2 separate regions of the Homo sapiens genome follow, and region 2 is linked to region 1. Evidence: fine-mapped expression QTL. Tissue or cell type: whole blood. Region 1 holds a variant in brackets; the other region holds the start of a gene. All regions are shown on one strand. Distances are between the middles of the regions.

Region 1 (2,749 bases):
AAAGTGAGGCTCATGTACCTGATGGGAGGGTTGGTGTGAGGGAGATGAGAAGCAGCCCGGATACCTGGGAAGCAACACCCACCGGAGCCCCTCTCCTTCTCCCTGACCCACCCCTGCAGCTGCTTAATTTCATGCATGCACGCAGACACATATGTGCACACATGCAAACGTGCGTGCATGCACACACCCCTTGGGCTTCTCAGCCTCAAGGCCTTGCTCACACTGTCCCCGAGTCTGCAATGCCTTTCCCGAATCTCTTCTCTCCTATCCCCCTTTCAGAGCCCAGCTTGAGCCCACCTCTCTCAGGGAGTCTTCCCCAACCATCCAGGGCCTCAGAGCTCTCCTCTCTGAACCCTAACTTGTCAGGACAGCACCCCTTCCCCAGAACCTGGTTTTAAGGCCCTCAAGAGGTAAGAAATCTCAACCAGGTTTCTCATCTTTCCCCCATCCCCATCTGGCCCCTAGGGGACAGAGAATGCCCCTCTTTGGGTGGGCTTCACTCTGCCCTGCCCCAGTCCTGGAAGGTAGCCCAGCCTGGGCCGTTTGACCTCTGCTCAGCCTTCTCATCCCCACTCCACCTGTGCTATGGCCTTAGCCAGTGACTCTCTCATCTCCCCCAGGTTCAGCCCAAACACGTCCTCTTGCATGGTGCAGCCCCTATGCCCTTCTATGCCCCATGTGCTCCTGCCTTGGTGAGTCGTGCCTAGCCCAGGGCCGGTCCTGGCACAAGTCTGTCTCCTACTTCCTGAGGTCACTTCCCAGGCGAGGTCTGTGTCTGCCTGGCAGGCAGAGGGAGCATGGCCTTGGGGTCAGAAGGCCCGAGCTCTCATCCCAGGGCTGTCTCTCTAGCTGTTCAACATTGGCCAAGTTGACCTTACCCTTGGGCCCCCACACCCCCATGCATGAAGTGGCATCAGCAATGAAGCCTGTCTCTCAGGGCTTCTGTGAGATCCAGAGGCGATCAGACAGGTGAACGCGCTTTGAGAACTGTGAAGTTATACCATTTGCTCCACTGCCCAGCGAGCAGCCACATTTGCTGAGATGATCAGAGGTGTGCGAGCGAGGGTGTTTAGGCCTTGGTGGCTGCTGTGAGCTGACCCCTGCCTCAACTGCCATGGGGTCTTGGAGGCATATTTGTGAGGGCAGCATTTTCCCTTTCCACCATGTCTGGGGTGGCTGCCCAGGGTGGAGCCTGTGTTGGGTGCCTCCTGCTCCCAGTGGCTTTGTGTGGAGTGGGAGGTGGCCCAGCTGGGGCAAGGTGGCCAGATCCCAGCCTGTGGGTTAGAGGACTTGGCACCACTGACCTGGCCTGACTTGGAGACATGGCTCCTCAACACACCGCCCCCACTCCCTCCCATTCCAAGGCTCAGGGCTCAGAGAAACGGGGCAGCAGGTGCAGGGAAGAAATGTGCATGGAATGGGGGTGAGGAGCCCGAGGACATCAGGCCTTCCTCATGCCTGGCTCACGGAGCACCTTCGTCTCATTTGCTGGCTGGGTTCTTACA[C/G]TCACCTGGATGTCATCTGTGGCCCATGTGCCCACTCTTCTTCTCTTTCTTCATCTCTGTCTCTCATCCTTTCTTCCTCTTTTCTTTTGTAACAGATTACATAACTTGCCCCTGGTCCCACAGCTGGTTAGGATCAGGCCAAGTCAGTCTGACCTTAGGCCGTGCCTTTCCCACTGCTCCCTCTGCCCACAACAACGGATGGGGGTCCATCCTCTAGGACATGCTGTAGACCTGCTGATCTCCAGCCCTGGCAGAAATCAGGCTGCAGGAGGCACTGTGAACCCAGGCCTTCCTCCCTGCCTGGCTTCCTCCAAGTTCCCTGGCTGTGTGGGAGCCACAGGTCTCTCCCTGACAGGTTGGGGTGATGGTGAGGTGGAGGGGTGCCCCCAAAGCAGTAGGCATGATGACAAGGGGTAAAACCCAACAGGGGCCCATGCTCCTCTGCTCCTTCCTGGGGACTGTGAAGCTCAAACAGAGCCTTGTGCCCCTCCCTCCCGCAGGCCCTCTGAGCCCTCCCCATGCATCAGTCCTCCCTCTGTGTTCCCAAAACACCCTGCACAAACGGCTTAGTATTTTGTATTCTCTTTTGATTGTGATCCCGGGGAGGGGGAAGGCTGGCAGAAAATCACTTAGCGCAGCACCTGGCACATAGTGAGTGCTCAGCAAGTGTGAGCCATTGCGTTGCTGTGGCTTCAGTGCGCCATCCACAGTGTCTGCCGTGGTGCCCACTCTGAGCAGGGCCCCGTCATAAGGGAAACATATTAACAGCACAGCAGCTACACGCACAGGGAGCGCTCACTGTGTTCCGGGCACTGCTCTGAGCACTTTTCACCCATTGACTCCTCTAATCTTCTCATGGCCCTTGTGCTGGACACTCTTCTTATCCCCATTGCACAGAGGAGGAAACTGAGGCACAGAGAGGCTAAGTGACTTGCCGAGGGTCACACAGCTTGGACATGTTCCCCAGCAGTCTTGCTTCAGAGGCTGTGCTGTCATAAATATGTGCAAAAAAAGGAAGAAATGAACAAGACTCAGGATGTGGAGGAGGAAAGAAAGGCAGGGAGCTAATGTTGACTGAGCATCCTCCATGTACCAGCACATCACTGATGTCTTCAGAGACGTCAAGGGATTCGCCCAGAGTCACACAGGAGCCAAGGGCATGGCTGGGATTTGAGCCCTGGGTGATTTCTAATCCCCTCCTCCCCACCTTATCCCACCAGCTCAGGCCTCAGAGAGCCAGCACA
Region 2 (2,749 bases), 28 kb before region 1:
CCAAACCCAAGCTGGGAAGCACACAAATGTCCCCGGCGGCGGGAGGATGACTGCTCCCATTTTACAGAGGAGAAAACAGGCTTGCTCGCAGAGGTTAGGCGTCATGCAGAGGTCATTCCGCTGGACGGTGGCCAAGCTGGCACTCCAACGCTGGGCGGAATGGCTCCAGAGCCAGACTGAAAGTGGGAGAGGTGACTCGGTCCCAGCCAGGCGGTGAGTTCCTCTGGGCTAGGTCCCCGGTGCTGGCGCAGCAAAGACCACCCGGAGAAAGAGACGGTGAAGGCCCCGGGGCTTCCTGGGGCGTCAGGCGGAGGCGGAGGCGGGGGCGGGGCTCCCTCCAGGCAGTCTTGGACTAGCTGAGTTGTCCCAGCGAGATGGGTGACAGCCGCTTTCCCGAGCTCCCCCGGCCCAGGCTGGTGTCCTGGCGACTCGCCAAGGCACCGGGGCGGGCTAGGGCTGGAGCCGGGGTGGAGGAAGAGGGTCGAGAAGCGAGGCGGGCCCAGAGCAGAAATAGGAGAAGGGGGGGGGGAGGGGGCGGGGAGTCTTTCCTGGGGCAGGAACCCGGGCCCCCCTTGGCGCAGCCGGCCCGCAAAGTGATTCTGCAGATGGAAGGAATTAAGTAGGAGGGGGAGGGTCCGATGGTGATAGCGAGAGGAGGGAGTTAGAAGTGTGTGCGTCTGTGTACACGCGTCTGAGAGAGGAGCGGGAGAGACAGGGAGAAACATCAGACCAGACGGAAATAGAAGAAAGGAGACAAGAAGAGTGAGAGAAAGAGAAGGACATACACACACACACACACACACACACACACACGGAGGGCGCCACATACAAGGACGACGGACACAGGAGACTAGTACTAGTCTAAGAGAGAGAGAAAGAAGGAGTATGAGAAAGGAGGGAAAATAGGAAAGGAAAAGTGAGTGAAAAACAATTGCAGAGGATTTGGAAAGAACGAGACAAGAGCGCTGACGACAGAGGGAGACGAAATTGATTAGGCCGGGGCTGCACTGAGCTCCCGGCAGCTCGGGGAGCTGGGTTGGCCGGGCTGGGACGAGGTGGGGCTTGGGCGGGGCCTCGCATGGGCGGGCCCGCGCCGTGCTGCATATGCAGATGAGCCTCACTCCCCTCTCTCCCCACCCCTGACGGTTCATATTCAACGAGACAGCCAATGCAGGGCGAGGACAGTGCCAGGCGGGGCAGGGAGTGGGCGGCGGGGCATCGTGGACCCCACCCCCGGAGCCGCCGCTGGAGGGGTCAGCCGCGAGGCAGATAGCGGATCGCCGGGCGGGGCGGGACGCAGTGGGCGGGGCGGAGGGGCGGGGCCAAAAGTTTCCTGCCCAACTTTCGCTGCCTCCTTCCACCGCCTGCGCGCGCCGGGGCCGCAGTCGGGGGGAGGCGGCGGCAGCGGCAGCGGCTGCGGGCAGCGCGCGGGGCGCAGGGCGCGGGGCGATCACCGTCGGGGCTCGGGAGGCGGGCAGTGGGCACAGGCTCCCCGGTGCCCGCCCCTCCGCTGCGGAGGGGGGCCGCGAGCGGGCGGCCGGGGAGGGGCCGGCACCGCCGCCACAAAATGAGCCTGCTGTCGGCCATCGACACGAGCGCCGCCTCGGTGTACCAGCCCGCCCAGCTGCTCAACTGGGTCTACCTGTCGCTGCAGGACACGCACCAGGCTAGCGCCTTCGATGCCTTCCGGCCCGAGCCGACCGCCGGCGCCGCACCCCCGGAGCTGGCCTTCGGCAAGGGCCGCCCCGAGCAGCTGGGCTCGCCCCTGCACTCCAGCTATCTCAACAGCTTCTTCCAGCTGCAGCGCGGAGAGGTGGGTGCCCCCGCGCGCCCCCGCCCACCGCCCCACCGCCCCACCGCCCCACCGTGGCGGGCCGTTCCCTGTCTGACCCGCTCTTCCTGGCCTGGCGCGGCCCGGCTCCGCATTGCCGGGCCCGGCTTGGCTTGGCTTCGTTCAACTCTGCCAAACTCGCCGCCCGAAGTCCCCGGGGTGCCGGGTGCGCGTCACCTCCCGGCTGAGCCCGGGCTGGAGCAATGCAGGCCGGGGCGGAGCTCTCCCGCCCCCTCTCCCTGCCAGGGCAGCCCTGCTCCAAAGGGGTTGGGGGAGGGAGTTGAGGAGGGGTTGTCTCCGGATTTTCTTCAGACAGCTGGGGTGCGGCCTGGGCGGGGAGCCCCTTCGAAGTGTCCTTCTCACGCCCAACCTTATCCTCGTCCTGGCCACCGCGGGCTGGGACCGAGAGTGCAGATTCTGCTCGGAGCTCCTCTGGAAGGGCCTAAAATCTTTTCTCCGACCTCTGCGGTTCCCGACCCGAAAGGCACCCTGGAGAGCAGTGACTGCCCAGAGGGCTTCTCCTGCTGTTCTCACTCGGGGACCCCAGATACGTCCTCCAGCTGCTCGCCCTCCCCCAGCCACATAGGAAGTGGTTTCTGAGGGCTTGACCCCACAGACTGCGCTGTCCCCAGCCCTCCCAGCCTCGAAGGAAATGAAAGGGAAATCCTCTTGAGCTCTTGGGAGGGGGGCTAGAAAGGGGGGGGGAGAGGTTCCAGCTGCCCAGCGCCTTCTGCAGAAACCTGGGCCGGCTGTGTTGCAAAGTCTGCCTGTTTGGTGGATTCAGTTACAAAGTTGACTGGGCAGCGCCTCTTTGCCAGCAAGATAAATACACAGATCGCCACCACCTCCCAGCCCTTTTTGAAGAGTCTCCAGGGCCTGCCCAGATACCACTCCTTTCCGTGGGCTGGACTCCTCCCC

Evidence for each region. PIP is the estimated chance that this variant, and not a neighbour inherited with it, causes the effect.
Region 2: it holds the start of ZCCHC24, and the variant in region 1 is fine-mapped to the expression of ZCCHC24 in whole blood (INTERVAL, PIP 0.95).

Annotation. Positions count from the first base shown.
Region 1 is chr10:79,416,451-79,419,199 of GRCh38, reverse strand. All of the region lies in intron 2 of ZCCHC24 (zinc finger CCHC-type containing 24), which reads left to right. Among named protein-coding and RNA genes, the nearest start is that of ZCCHC24, 28 kb to the left of the region's middle. The variant C/G (reference allele first, on the strand shown) is at 1,506.
Region 2 is chr10:79,444,259-79,447,007 of GRCh38, reverse strand. It overlaps ZCCHC24 (zinc finger CCHC-type containing 24), which reads left to right and starts at 1,384. Exons shown (of 4, transcript NM_153367.4): 1 at 1,384-1,813. The coding sequence starts at 1,568. It overlaps LOC105378383 (a long non-coding RNA gene), which reads right to left and starts at 767. Exons shown (of 4, transcript XR_946104.4): 1 at 1-767. RefSeq lists silencers at 952-1,461, 1,472-1,531.